Homo sapiens: one gene and its partners. The protein of the gene in region 2 purifies or fractionates together with the protein of the main gene of each other region. This does not show direct contact. Each region holds a gene or a part of one and is shown on either strand. Other genes may lie near its edges.

Region 1 (3,500 bases), on a different chromosome or scaffold from region 2:
GCTAGCTATTAATATTATGTCAGTAAAGTGAAGATGATAAGACTACTTATATTTCAAGAATTGTAGAAAGGATTAAATACAATATTTTATTTTTTTAAAGATACGGGACCTCACTATGTTGCCTAAGTTGGACTCAAACTCCTGGCCTCAAGTGTTCCTCGTGCCTCAGCCTCCCAAGTAGCTGGGACAACAGGTGCACACCACTGTGCCTGGCTTTAGAATATCATAATAAACCTTTCTATTCTTGGATTTATGTAGCATTATCTACAAAACAGAAATTGATCTATTAAATTTATTAAATGATTGATTTATTAAATAATCAAATATCCTAAAAACTTTACCCTCACAAAGGCCTTTCTAACATATTTTGAATCTAAAATCTTTCAAGTAGCACTCATTCACATTACTCCAAAGAAAATAATGAAGAATCATGAATTTCACTGAGCAGCAATAATGGAGTCCTTACCCTCCACTTTTGCACAATATAAGGAAATGCTTAGAATGAACAGAAGTTTTAAAATACAACACTATTCTGTCAAATGTGTAGATTTTTACATAGCAATTCTTACTTTAATAAATTTAATCTACAGTTTACTTTCATGTATTTTCTTTTACCTTTTTGGAGTATATATATAAGTTTGGTGTTCTGCCTGGTACTGGAATGCCAGCTTTAGTTAGCTTTATGAAATACTTCTGTACTCGGCTGGCAACCTAAGGAAACATGACAAGTCTCTTAACACAATGAGATGACATACAATACCTGAGTCGTTTTTAAAAATTAAAACGTACATGAGTATCTAATGAATGCTAAGAATTCAATACTCATCATGAATCTAGAATTAACAATAAACTGCCACCAAATACACATATATTTTAAAATCTAGGCCAAACAAAAATTATTCAAGTAAATTTAAATTTGATTCTAAAGCTAAACACATATTTCAACTTGTGAACACTTACATTTGTAGTATAAAAACACATCTATTAATATAGATGGGAATATGAAGGAGTAAACTGCAAGATACATTTTTAGAAAGACAACCAGGAAACACTAAGGCAATGAAACAAATCTGTTTGCTCAGTATAACCAAAAAGTATACAATTAGTATATTTAGTAAGCATTCAAGAGAAATTAAGTCCATTATATGTTCATTTTTTAATATTTCGTAATGATCCAAAGCAGAAGTATCTCAAGTTGTTTCTGAAATCAACGAAAATATATACAATTTTTTTAAAAAAACACCACATACTACAGCACTCTGTAGCTGAAAGTGTTATGGCAGATCGCCCAATGTCAGCTGCATTATTCTCCTTTATTAAAAAACTACCAAAAGCATACCAGCAATCTGCAGTCATCTCCTCAATTACCTGTTTTGCTGTCCTGTTGCCCAATTCATCTGCTATCTTCTGCCAGCGTCGAGATTCTACTTCTTCAGGAGGGTATTTGATGAGTAGCTGTTCCAGCTTTTTCTAAGCCATACCCAAGACCAAATTTAAGAAAATATGTATTTAATTTTAAATATTGGATTTCTAAATAAATACATTCACATTTCATTTCAAAATGTAATACTCTCTCCCACCTTTGGGGGTTACGTAATTAGAAATCCTCATGGTAGGAAAAATTTCTAGTTAGAAACTTAAGACTTCACAGGGAACAATGAAATTAGAGAATAAACTTATGAAAGAGCTTAGAAAAGTTTTCTATTCACATAAGTAAAAATATCTCATAAGAAAACAGAAAATAAGTAAACAAATTGGTAGATTACACATTTTAGTGATTTCCACTGAAATCACTAAATCCACTGAAATCCAAGAAAAGATGGTCAATCTTTTCTTACTTTTCTTTCCCCTACAGTTTTAACAAAAACGTGTAAATTCACTTAAATTTCGACTATTAAAAGAGGCTTTTCCTTCTTTTGTATGGTCCTTTATTCAAATATTTGATTTTAATATTCCTTCTTGTCTCCTGTATCTTCTCATAGTCCTAAAGATGCAGAAAAATCTGGATGCTTGAAATAAATAGATTTCCCAAAGCTTTTTATAAACTGTTAAATGTATAGCTGTGGGGTTAATAGCCATATGAGACAAAGATGTGCCTCAAACTTCACCCACTAACAACCCTAGCCATTAGCCAAAAAACAATTCTAAACTGTATGCCAAAACTGACTTGACTTCCTCACCTCCCTTCGACAACAAAAATAAGAATGCACTTTGAAGCTCAGCTTTACTGGCCTCAGGTTTTTCTCTCTCCCAAAGCTACATTACAAAAACATCTATTTTATTCTATCCACTTCTACTCCCCTCTCAAAACCCAGGTTCCTTCTTTTAAAATTATCCCCAAACAAAAGTTTACACATTCTCAAAATCCAAAATTCTTGACGTATGCAAAAAGGTATACAAAAATAAGCCTAAATATTTAAAACTCATGGCTAACAGGCATCACATACAACAATATACACCTGACTCAAAATACAGGCTCTTTTCTTTTTGAGATGGAGTCTCACTCTGTTGCCCAGCCTGGAGTGCAGTGGCATGATCCTGGCTCAATGCAACCTCTGCCTCCTGGGTTCAAGCAATTCTCCTGCCTCAGCCTCCCGAGTAGCTGGGATTATATATGCACACGCCATCACACCCGGCTAATTTTTGTATTTTTAGTAGGGTTTCACCATGTTGGCCAGGTTGGTCTTGAACTCCTGACTTCAAGTGATCCACCCATATCAGCCTCCCAAAGTGCTGGGATTACAGGCGTGAGCCACTGGACCTGGCCTCATAATACTGACTCTGATGTTAACTGTTTACTTGTTTTTTTAAGCCTACACGATTTTGAAATATTTATTACCTGTTCTTCAACAGTCCACAACTGGTTAAATGTTTCAGGTTTGGTATCATCACACAAGCGTCCTCTTATCATCTGCACATAAGACAAGGCTTTTGTCAGAGAGAAAATAACAACACCTATCCTTTGATATAGCCAAATAACACGCAAATTGTGGAATTTTTAAATTAATTTCAAAATATTTGAGTAAATTTGTTTTTTAATGTATATGCTTTTTTTTTAACTGTTTACAAAATGCCTTCACATTATTTTATTTTGTTTGGTTTTATACTCTCAGCAATCCTGTGAAATACATAATAGTACTGTAACTTCATTTTTTAAAAAAGGGAAAGGAAATGTGGGCTCAGAATTGAAAAGTAACATGTCCACTGAGGTTCATCTAACTAAGAGTGGCAAGGCCAGGACTCAAATCCTGGTCACATTTCACTACACACAAAGGAACTACTATTTTTAGAGTAAATACTATGTGTCGGATACTGTACTAGGCACATTGCATATACTACCTATTTAACCCTCACCAACAACCCTACAAGATAGGTAATATCAACTACATTTTATACAAAAGGAAACTGCAGCTTAGAGACTTCAACGTAAATGATGTCTGAAGGTTCACGGCTAGTAAGTTAGGACTCCAACCTAAGTTTCTCTTAATTTCAAAGTTCTT
Region 2 (3,500 bases):
TGCAGGAACCTCCTGAAATGAGGAGAGGGGGCCTCAGGTCTGCCCGAGGGTCACACAAAAGGAGGGGAGACTCTGGGGAGAGGTGCTGGCCCAGAGCAGAACTGGGTGGAAGGACCTCATCCTTTCTGAAAGGCTGAACCCAAAGACAGACCCCTGCATGGCCTTGAAGCCCCAGGAAGCCTCTGTGAAGTTAGTTTATGGGGATTCCAGGGTGGCAGGAACCCAAAGAACCCAGCAGAAGCAAACACAGAACTTGGCTGGAGTGAGGCTCCTTCATCCTAAAGCTCAGGGAATCTTCCCAAAGAGTATTTCCACAGCAGGGATGGGTGTGGTGGCTCACGCCTGTAATCTCAGCACTTTAGGAGGCTGAGGCAGGAGGATCACTTGAGGTCAGGAGATCGACACCAGCCTGGCCAACATAGAGAAACTCCTTCTCTACTAAAAATACAAAAATTAGCCCGGCGTGGTGGCGGGCGTCTATAATCCCAGCTACTTGGGAGGCTGAGGCAAGAGAATCGCTTGAACCTTGGGGGCAGAGCTTGCAGTGAGCCGAGATTGTGTCACTGCACTCCAGCCTGGGTGACAGAGCGAAACTCCATTTCAAAAAAAATACGTATTTCCACAGTAGTCAGCAGCACAAACTCCACTTTGGGTCATTTTATTTTCCTCTGATACCATGGCAAACCCCAGTCCATTCCTCTGGCAAGCCTTTCTGAAATGACCCGGAGTTCTAAAGACCTTTGTGCGGCAGGAAGGAGATGCACAGGAACTGGGTGTGATGCAGCATCTCGGGAGGTGTCCGGGGGTGCCCCAGGGCATGTGACTCATGGACCTCACCAGGCCAGGGCCAGAAGATGGAGGTAGGCCAAGGGCAGCCAAACCAACGCAGGGACAAGGAACAGCTTGCCTGCTGCGTACAATGCAGGGATGGCCCAGCCAGTGCCACCTCAGGCTGTGAGCACCGGGACCCCAGAAAGCAGAGAAGGAGAAAGAGCCACGGGGCCAAAGGGAACTCTGAGAGTCTCATCACTGTTGCCAGGCCTGTGTGGAGGATACAGTTTTATACAGCCTGTCCTAAACTGTCTTCTGTGACATGTTACTGAAGTGGCTTTCAAACCTTGGTGGGCATCAGAATCTCCTGGGGGAAGTTTAAAAAATCTCAATTGTTTCACGCACAAATCATAAATGGATGCTAAAACTAGTGTGTTTGATATGAACAGGATAGTTACAGTCTCAAAAGTATCTCCCAAGACACTTATTAATTATGCAATGGAGGCCAGGTGCAGAGGCTCACACCTGTAATCCCAGCACTTTGGGAGGCCAAGGTGGGTGGATCGCTTGAGCTGAGGAGTTCAAGACCAGCCTGGGCAACATGGCAAAACCCCTCTCTACAAAAAATACAAAAATTAGGTGGAGTGGTGGCAGGTGCCTATTGTCCCAGCTACTCAGGAGGCTGAGGCAGGAGGATCACTTGAGGCCAGGAGTTTGAGGCTGAAGTGAGCCATGATTACGCCACTCCACTCCAGCCTGGATGACAGACTGAGACCCTGTCTTAATCGATCAATCACACAATGGAAAATAGCAGTAATCTGATACAAGAGAAACGTGGAAAATACCACTTTAACCAATGGCACAGACAGCATCCTGTGCCGTCTAATATGACCCACCAGAGACACCTCTTCTGTGCCAAAAGTGTAAAGCATGAATCCTACTAGTGAGGAAATGTCAGATAGTTAATACCAATGTTGGAGCTCCACCCCAAATAAACAGAGCCTCTGGGCACAGTCAGACTTCAGAACCAGTGTGTTCTCAAAGTAGAGGAATGTAATGTTCAAGTTCCTGAATCTCCTGCAGAGATTCAAGGAAACAGTGTTTCCAGATCATTTTTTTATTTTAGTTTTTTTTTTTTTTTTGAGGCAGAGCCTTGCTCTGTTGCCCAGGCTGGAGTGCAGTGGCACGATCTTAGCTCACTGCAACCTCCGCCTCCTGCCTCAGCCTCCCAAGTAGCGTGCGCCACCACACCTGGCTAATTTTTGTATTTTTAGTAGATATAGGGTTTCGCTATGCTAGCCAGGCTGGTCTCAAACCCCCAACCTCAGGTGATCCACCCACCTTGCGATTGCAGGCATGAGCCACTGTGCCTGCCCGGCCTTAAGATTATTTTAAAAGCAGGAGTTTTCTGGAAGTGAAACTTCTCCATCTCAGAACCATAAAACCTTCAGGTCATCTGAGTATGACTTCCCAGCCAAGCTTACAGACACATGCCACCACGCTCAGCTAATTAAAAACTTTTTGTAGAGACAAAGTCTCACTTTGTTGCCCAGGCTGGTCTCAAACACCTGCGTTCAAGTGATCCTCTAACCTCGGCCTCCCAATCACCTCTGTAATGTTGTGATTACAGATCTGAGCTACCCAGCCCCTGATATCCCTATTTTAATGACTCTGCCAAGGTCATAGAGCCAGTAAACGGCAGTGTTGACTCACGCCTTGCCACCTTCTGTAAAGGCATTAGCAGCAGAGGTAACTGGAAGAGTGGGCCTGGCAGTGGGCCAGGGAATGCGGGACCCAAGCGAGAGGCTGGGAGTAGCAATCAGCTTATCCATGGGAGGAAGGCAGGCTGGGGACTTGGTCCAAATGGACCTGCAGCCCAGCCCCCAGGAAAGGAGGGAGCGGCGATGAAGTGGGTGCACGGTACTCACTTGCACTCAGCCTCTGCATCGGCCTTGGCGGTTGTGTAGAGGCCACGCAGCTTTGTCCGGTAATAGGGAGAAACTGCAGAGGAAACACAGGGATAAGGAGGCAGGGCCAGGGCAGGCACAGTAGCATGGCACTGCTTCCATGCACCGGAATCACACTCGTGGAGGCACAGAGAGGCCGTAGCTGCAGTCAGAGCTCTGCTGGCTCAGGAGTGCTCCTGAGGCGGATGCCCCCAGGCTCCATGAGTCCGCATTTCCATATGGTACAAATGCCATCCCTACATCTGCGAGAGTACTGTCTTACCTTTTCTCCATCATGACACTCACAGAAAATATTTGTCAGGACCCAGGAAAACACAATTCTCAGAGTTACCCAGAGTAAGAAAGCCCCAGCCCCAGGATCTCACCACCTGAGGGCCTCAGGGCAGATGCAGGGGCCGCCTGGGAAGGAAGCTCCTTTCTAGAAAACACCAGCTAACTGGGGCGCTTGTGTGCTCTAAGGGCAAGCTTCCCTAGATACAGCCTCATTTCACTGCCTTTCGAATCCTCAGAGTAGAGGGATTTTAGTTCTTCAGGTCACCCAGATTAACGGAAAGCTGTCCCTCCTGCTGCATTTTGGAATATGCAGATACATGCAAATCTATTTTGAATACAATGACCACCTCGGTCACAGTCTTGGCCATACTCACCCTAGCCCCATCTCATCCCCTTTCTCTCCTGAGCCCAGCTACTCACTCTTGTTCTCTGTCTGCATCCGCTCATGGGTCTTCTGGATGTTCACTAAGTTGTGTTCGCTCCGCGAAC
Region 3 (3,500 bases), on a different chromosome or scaffold from region 2:
ATGCCTGACATAGGCTCCTCGAAGACATCACTGCCCAGCACACCATGCCCAGAGACATTGCCTTCTTCACTTTCTTGAGGCTCCATTTTCACATGGGCCAGATTCCAAAGAGGAGAAGCATTTACCTCTGCACCTAGAAACAGAGGAAAGATGGACATACACCAAGTGTATATGTGTAGCCAAGTGTAGAACAAAGAGTAAATATATCACTCAGAACCAACTAATATGCTTTGAGCTCAGTTTTCACTCTGATTCTGTACTTGGCTGGAGAATATGGTTGTTACTCTCTGCTTCAAAAAGTTAACCATCCCAAAAAATTACCAGCTCTGATTATCTTCTTTTCCATTTCTTCTACCTTTCTTTCCTCTACCTCACCCACCCCCATTTCCCCTAAACCAGGGAAGTGAAACTAGGCAGGTGGAAAGATCCCCTGTCTCACAGCCCAAAGACATGCACAACCACAGGACTTGTTCAGTTGTTTAGTTTGCCTGTCCTTCCTTCCTTCTTTTATGGGGCCATCTTGTTTTCCTGCCTTTTGTTTGGGTCTCTGGTCATCTCTTGCATTATGAAAAGTTAATGGTCACTACATAATGCTAACAGCAGTTCTCTACCTGGTCTTCTTTGAAGAGACATGGTCCCGAAGTCCGCAACAATTTCTCTTTGGCCCTCGCATCTCTCTATGTATTCTAGCAATGCTGTTCTCTTATGGTTATTCTTCCATAGTGAAAGGCTCTCTGCCCAACACTTTTAAAAGTATGACCTAATTCCATTTAGACCACATTTGAGGATTTGCTATTTGAGTCATTTGTGCATTGATGACAATTTATACTTGTAAACAACTGAGTGTCCAGACTAATTTGCAACCTAACTGACACGTAACCAGTCAGTTGTCCTGGCTCCTAAGGTAATCACAGAGTCTGGAAAAAGAAGCCAGCTACCTCTAACTGGGAAGCCCTATTTCTTTTTTTTTGAGACGGAGTCTTGCTCTGTTGCCCAGGCTGGAGTGCAGTGGTGCAATCTCGGCTCACTGCAAGCTCCGCCTCCTGGGTTCATGCCATTCTCCTGCCTCAGCCTCCTGAGTAGCTGGGACTACGGGTGCCCACCACCACGCCCAGCATATTTTTTGTATTTTTAGTAGAGACAGGATTTCACTGTGTTAGCCAGGATGTTCTCGATCTCCTGACCTCGTGATTCGCCCGCCTCAGCCTCCCAAAGTGCTGAGATTACAGGCGTGAGCCACTGCGCCCAGCCGGAAGCCCTATTTCAATGTCTTTCATCTTCAGTTTGTTAGAATACTCTAGCAGGGAAGCCAAACTCTGAGAACATCCTTGAGCAATTAACACTCCCCCATCTATCTGGCAGCTGTCTTATTCAATGAAGTACAAGCATCAGGAAGGACCAATACAGAATACTAAAAATAAAATACTAAAGGAGGAAGGGGATATCTTCCCAACCAGCTGGATCAGCTGAATCAGCCTTGGTAATCAACGTGACAACACATTGCATCTACATCTTAACTAGGGATTATTTTAAAGAATGCCTGTAAAGCTGTGCTAATCCTCTCTTCACTAATTAGAAAGAGAAGAATGCTGGGATCTCTAGATAGGTGAAACTGTATTCGTTTTAGGACTTTCCATTCTGCCCACTGCTGCTTTTGTTCTTCTACCTCTTGAGCTTGATTCCAAAAAGCAAAAAGTACTGAAATTGGCAGATCTCCCAGAATCAAAGTGAGTAAGTTTATTTGTCTTACTTGAAGCCTGTGGTGAAGCTTCAACCTCCAGGTTAGATGGGAAGCGTTCGCTCTGAGCCCCAAGCACTCCCATAGGCAGTGACTGGTCTCCAGAAGCAAGGTCAGCCTCCAGCTCCTCACTGACAGGAAAAGTGATGTCGCTCACAGGTTCCTCCTTGATCTTCACAGGTTTAGCGTCCTCTGTGGCCTTCTCAGGATTGACAATCCTTTCATATTCTTCAGAGAGTTGCTTACTAATCTGTTGGCAAGCAAGAGTCAATTTTCCAAGGAAATGTTAAAAGCAAGTTGGATAGTCAGCTTGTGACGTCCCATGGAAAAGCCAACAGAACATGAATAACAGAATTTTAAAACATTCACTGCCAATGGGAGGGATTTGTTTAAGGTGCTGAGTTTGCATTTATGAGTGATAGAGATATGTAAAGAAAATTGGTTTGGCAGAGAATGTGTATGTCATTAATTAAAAGTTACATAAAGGTAAAAAAATGTGTTAGAACTGGGACAAAAGATTACATTTTTTTGGCTATAAAAATTAACAGTAGGCTGGGCACGGTCATTCACACCTGTCATCCCAGTACTTTGGGAGGCCAAGGTGGGAGGACAACTTGAGCCTCGGAGTCTGAGACCAGCTTGGGCAGTATCTAGTGAGACCCCATCTCTACCAAAAAAAAAAAAAAGCTGGGCATGGTGGTTCACATCTGTGGTCTCAGCTACTTGGAAGGCTGAGGTGGAAGGATCGCTTGTAGTGAGCTGTGATTGTGCCACTGCACTCCAGCCCAGGCAACCCTGTCTAAAAAAAGGGAAAAAAAAGTTGACATATGTATCCTAGGTGAATAATCAATGGTGTGGGAAATCTGGATCACTTAGCAAAGACTTTTTTCTTGGGTGTTAAAAATTCCTAATCATATTTTAGACCTGCAGAAACTGAAACAGTGAACAAATGACTTAAGAGCACAAGGGCTGAAGAGATTAGATATTTCTGGTTCCAAGCAAAATCATCACCCCCCACCAACCCATCCTCCAGGCAATATCATTTTACTCTGTTTTTTTCATAGCACTTAACATTATCCAAAATTGTATTTTTTTGTGTATGTGCTTAGAGACAGGGTCTTGCTATGTTGCCCAGGCTGGTCTTAAACTTCTGGCCTCAAACAATCCTCCCACCTCAGCCTCCCAAGCAGCTATATTAGATATATATATTACAATTCCAGTCAAACCATTATATTAGCTGCTTGAGAGGCTGAGGCAGGAGGATTGTCAGTAGGTCTGTGTTCTCTTTTTTTTTTTTTCAGACAGGGTCTTGCTCTGTCACCCAGGTTGGAGTGCAATGGCACAATCATGGCTCACAGCAGCCTTAACTTCCTGGTCTCAAGTGACCTTCCCACCTCACACTCCCAAGTAGCTGAGACCACAGGCATGAGCTACCATGTCCAGCTAATTTTTATTTTTTAATTTTCTGTAGAGATGGGGTCTCACTATATTGTCCAGGCTGGTCTTGAACTCCTGGCCTCAAGCAATCCTCCCACCTCAGCTTCCCAAGTAGCTGGGATTACAGGCATGTGCCATCATGCCCAGCTCCTGAAATTGTTTTGATTGTTATTTATTGACTTGTGTTTGTCTCCCTTCAAAAACAATGTAAACTCAGGTAACTTAGTAACTGCTGAATCCCACAATGCTCGACTCTCAACAGGCACTCAATAAATACTTGTTGAATAAAATCAGACTAACTGCATTCTCTCAGATTCCATATACT
Region 4 (3,500 bases), about 39 Mb from region 2:
ACTGGTCTTCGGACCATGCCACCCATTAACCTGCAAGAGAAGCAGGTCATGTGAGTACCTAGGAGACGACAATAGTGGTGATGGTGTATTTGGGGTGTCTGCTAGCTGAAGGCATGAGATGGGGAGTGAGCGGGGCCAGCAGCCTCTGCTGCTTCCTCTCTAGATGACCTGGGGTGGAGCTTGAGCTTGCACTAGGATGAGAGGCAAGGACAAGCTCAGGGGTTTGGCCTGGATACCTGGTTTAGAATGAAAGTAGGCTCATTCCCAAGGAAGGAGATGAGCAAGCAGAGCTGTGGGTCTGGGGCCAGTGGACCAGGCGAAGCTGACATTGGACTAGATACCTTCCCCAGTCTGGCTATGTCCTCGCTTCCTCCCAACCCTGCCCGCTGAGCCTTTGGGTGAACAAGAGGCAAAGTTTTTGCACTCTTCCCCACAGCTGTCTCTCAGGAGATGATAGCTCCACCTGCATTGGGATTTTGGCCAAGGAGGTGGAGATTGTGGCTAGCAGTGACTCTAGCATTTCAAGCAAGGCCCGGGGAAGCAACAAGGTAGGTACTGGGATGCTGTGGCATATATAATGTACGGGGGCACACCCAGCCTTTCCAGTCTCCCTCATGCTGCCAGTTCCTATGGGGACCACCTTGACACTTTCCCAGTTTCAGGAAGCCAGGGCTGGGTGCCAAGCCTCTGTGGGAGTCTGGCTCCAGGAGGTAACAGTGGGTAGCTGGACTTGCATCTGTGTCCTCTCCCATCCCCAGGGATGTTGGGGGCCACCTAGGCTCTGGGGAAGTTCCATGACTTTTCTCACCCTGGGTTCTCAGGTGAAAATTCAGCCTGTCGCCAAGTATGACTGGGAACAGAAGTACTACTATGGCAACCTGATTGCTGTGTCTAACTCCTTCTTGGCCTATGCCATTCGGGGTGAGTAAAGACAGTGAGGAGGAAGGAATGTTCTGCTGGATGTCCCACAGAGCCAGTTCCAACATCAGGCCACTCAGGCCTTAGGGGTACAATGGAAGGTTTGTCCATGCTGCCTCTTGGGGAGCTGGGTGGGAAAACCAAGCTTGAGACTCTGGTGGTGGCAGGGAGACAGGTGGGGCAGCGCTTCTCTGCTACTGCCTGAGCCTGGATACGTATTCATGGTCCACTGCTCTCCTGATTCCAGCTGCCAACAATGGCTCTGCCATGGTGCGGGTGATCAGCGTCAGCACTTCGGAGCGGACCTTGCTCAAGGGCTTCACAGGCAGTGTGGCTGATCTGGCTTTCGCGCACCTCAACTCTCCACAGCTGGCCTGCCTGGATGAGGCAGGCAACCTGTTCGTGTGGCGCTTGGCTCTGGTTAATGGCAAAATTCAGTATCCATTCCTTCCTGTGGGTGGTGGGACTGAAGAAGGGTGGGCGGAGCTGGGGTGTCACGCCTCTTCATTCATCTATCTAGCCCTTAACACCCTGCTCAGAGAAGAGATCTTGGTCCATATTCGGCAGCCAGAGGGCACGCCACTGAACCACTTTCGCAGGATCATCTGGTGCCCCTTCATCCCTGAGGAGAGCGAAGACTGCTGTGAGGAGAGCAGCCCAACAGTGGCCCTGCTGCATGAAGACCGGGTGAGGGGGCTGACATGGCGAAGAGGCGCCAGAGAAGCCATAGTGTGGGGTTGGGCTGCACACTCACCTCCCTGTGCCTTCCAGGCTGAGGTGTGGGACCTGGACATGCTCCGCTCCAGCCACAGTACCTGGCCTGTGGATGTTAGCCAGATCAAGCAGGGCTTCATTGTGGTAAAAGGTCATAGCACGGTAAGCCTGTGACTGCCTGCCTCCCCTGCCCTCCCCACTTCCTCATATCCATCTTCTGTTCCCTATATCCACAGCTGCCCGGGCAGCTTTACTAGCATTCTGCCCGTGGGGACTCTGAGCTCAAATTGGCCCTCACCTGTGCAGCTTTCTCCTTATCTAGCAGCACCCTGCAGGTCTGGCCTTCTCTAGGAACCCTGTTCATTTAGTCAGTCACACAAGCATGCCAGTCCCACCGTGAGTCAGCCCAGCTCATTGCCATCCTCACTTGGGAGGGGCTTGTTCTCACCTCTAGTCAGCAAAGCTTTTTGGGTTCTTTCTAGTGCCTCAGTGAAGGAGCCCTCTCTCCTGATGGGACTGTGCTGGCTACTGCGAGCCACGATGGCTATGTCAAGTTCTGGCAGATCTACATTGAGGGGCAAGATGAGCCAAGGTAAGGCAGGGCCTCAGGGACCAGGATCCTCCCGAGGTAGCCCACCCGACCACTCACTCAGGCCCCTCATCTGCCTACCTGCAGGTGTCTGCACGAGTGGAAACCTCATGATGGGCGGCCCCTCTCCTGCCTCCTGTTCTGTGACAACCATAAGAAACAAGACCCTGAGTGAGTGAGTGGGCAGCCTAGTGGGTGGTGGGCTGGACCATGGCTCCCAGCAGGGGCCCCAGCCAGTCACTCACTGCCTTGTTGCCTTGCAGTGTCCCTTTCTGGAGGTTCCTTATTACTGGTGCTGACCAGAACCGAGAGTTAAAGATGTGGTGTACAGTATCCTGGACCTGCCTGCAGACTATTCGGTAAGCAGTGGCTGGAAGGCTGGGGGACTGGGCAGGGGCGGCAGGGTTGGGAATGTAGCTTCCTTCAGTTCTCAGGCTCATTCACTCTGCTTTGTGGCTCTCTAGCTTCTCCCCAGATATCTTCAGCTCAGTGAGTGTGCCCCCTAGCCTCAAGGTTTGCTTGGACCTCTCAGCAGAATACCTGATTCTCAGCGATGTGCAACGGAAGGTAGGCTGCCATGGGGTACCCTGGGCAGAGTTGGGATTATAGAGGAAGGCCGGGGGGCAGGTGGCGCATCACAGCCCTTAGCCTCTGAGCTCAGCTAGGAACGTTCTGCCTGTGCAGGTCCTCTATGTGATGGAGCTGCTGCAAAACCAGGAGGAGGGCCACGCCTGCTTCAGCTCCATCTCGGAGTTCCTGCTCACCCACCCTGTGCTGAGCTTTGGTATCCAGGTTGTGAGTCGCTGCCGGCTACGGCACACTGAGGTGCTGCCTGCCGAAGAGGAAAATGACAGCCTGGGTGCTGGTGAGCTGCCTCAGGGTCAGAGCTATGTGTCCATATATCTAGGGGGTTGTGGAGGCACAGAGAGGGCCAGGGGCTTCATCATCCACACTGTCCTTTCAGATGGTACCCATGGAGCCGGTGCCATGGAGTCTGCGGCCGGTGTGCTCATCAAGCTCTTTTGTGTGCATACTAAGTGAGTGAGTGGGGAGGCCCGCCAGTGTCCTGTCTGTGTCTGTCTCCACTCTACTGACCCTTGCCCTTGGAGCACTTTATTCTCCCCCTTCTTTTCCTGCAGGGCACTGCAAGATGTGCAGATCCGCTTCCAGCCACAGCTGAACCCTGATGTGGTGGCCCCACTGCCCACCCACACTGCCCACGAGGACTTCAGTGAGTAGGGCGTGAGAGGGAGGTAGGGTAAGTTGGACTGACCAGGGT

Evidence for each region. The genes of interacting proteins can lie anywhere in the genome.
Region 1: the proteins of SGF29 (region 2) and ZZZ3 purify together in Homo sapiens (affinity purification with mass spectrometry; 9 studies listed by BioGRID and IntAct, with this or other methods). This does not show direct contact.
Region 3: the proteins of SGF29 (region 2) and SUPT7L purify together in Homo sapiens (affinity purification with mass spectrometry; 6 studies listed by BioGRID and IntAct, with this or other methods). This does not show direct contact.
Region 4: the proteins of SGF29 (region 2) and EDC4 purify together in Homo sapiens (affinity purification with mass spectrometry; 6 studies listed by BioGRID and IntAct, with this or other methods). This does not show direct contact.

Annotation. Positions count from the first base shown.
Region 1 is NC_000001.11:77,578,159-77,581,658, forward strand, and holds part of ZZZ3 (ZZ-type zinc finger-containing protein 3), read right to left. Parts: intron 2,912-3,500; coding exon 2,840-2,911; intron 1,471-2,839; coding exon 1,369-1,470; intron 712-1,368; coding exon 616-711; intron 1-615.
Region 2 is NC_000016.10:28,584,920-28,588,419, reverse strand, and holds part of SGF29 (SAGA-associated factor 29), read right to left. Parts: coding exon 3,432-3,500; intron 2,773-3,431; coding exon 2,700-2,772; intron 1-2,699. UniProt on the Homo sapiens protein: Chromatin reader component of some histone acetyltransferase (HAT) SAGA-type complexes like the TFTC-HAT, ATAC or STAGA complexes.
Region 3 is NC_000002.12:27,653,615-27,657,114, forward strand, and holds part of SUPT7L (STAGA complex 65 subunit gamma), read right to left. Parts: intron 1,989-3,500; coding exon 1,751-1,988; intron 134-1,750; coding exon 1-133.
Region 4 is NC_000016.10:67,876,052-67,879,551, forward strand, and holds part of EDC4 (enhancer of mRNA-decapping protein 4), read left to right. Parts: coding exon 1-50; intron 51-436; coding exon 437-548; intron 549-821; coding exon 822-921; intron 922-1,165; coding exon 1,166-1,355; intron 1,356-1,457; coding exon 1,458-1,605; intron 1,606-1,689; coding exon 1,690-1,794; intron 1,795-2,114; coding exon 2,115-2,224; intron 2,225-2,308; coding exon 2,309-2,392; intron 2,393-2,484; coding exon 2,485-2,580; intron 2,581-2,685; coding exon 2,686-2,788; intron 2,789-2,905; coding exon 2,906-3,086; intron 3,087-3,185; coding exon 3,186-3,258; intron 3,259-3,360; coding exon 3,361-3,452; intron 3,453-3,500. UniProt on the Homo sapiens protein: In the process of mRNA degradation, seems to play a role in mRNA decapping. Component of a complex containing DCP2 and DCP1A which functions in decapping of ARE-containing mRNAs. Promotes complex formation between DCP1A and DCP2.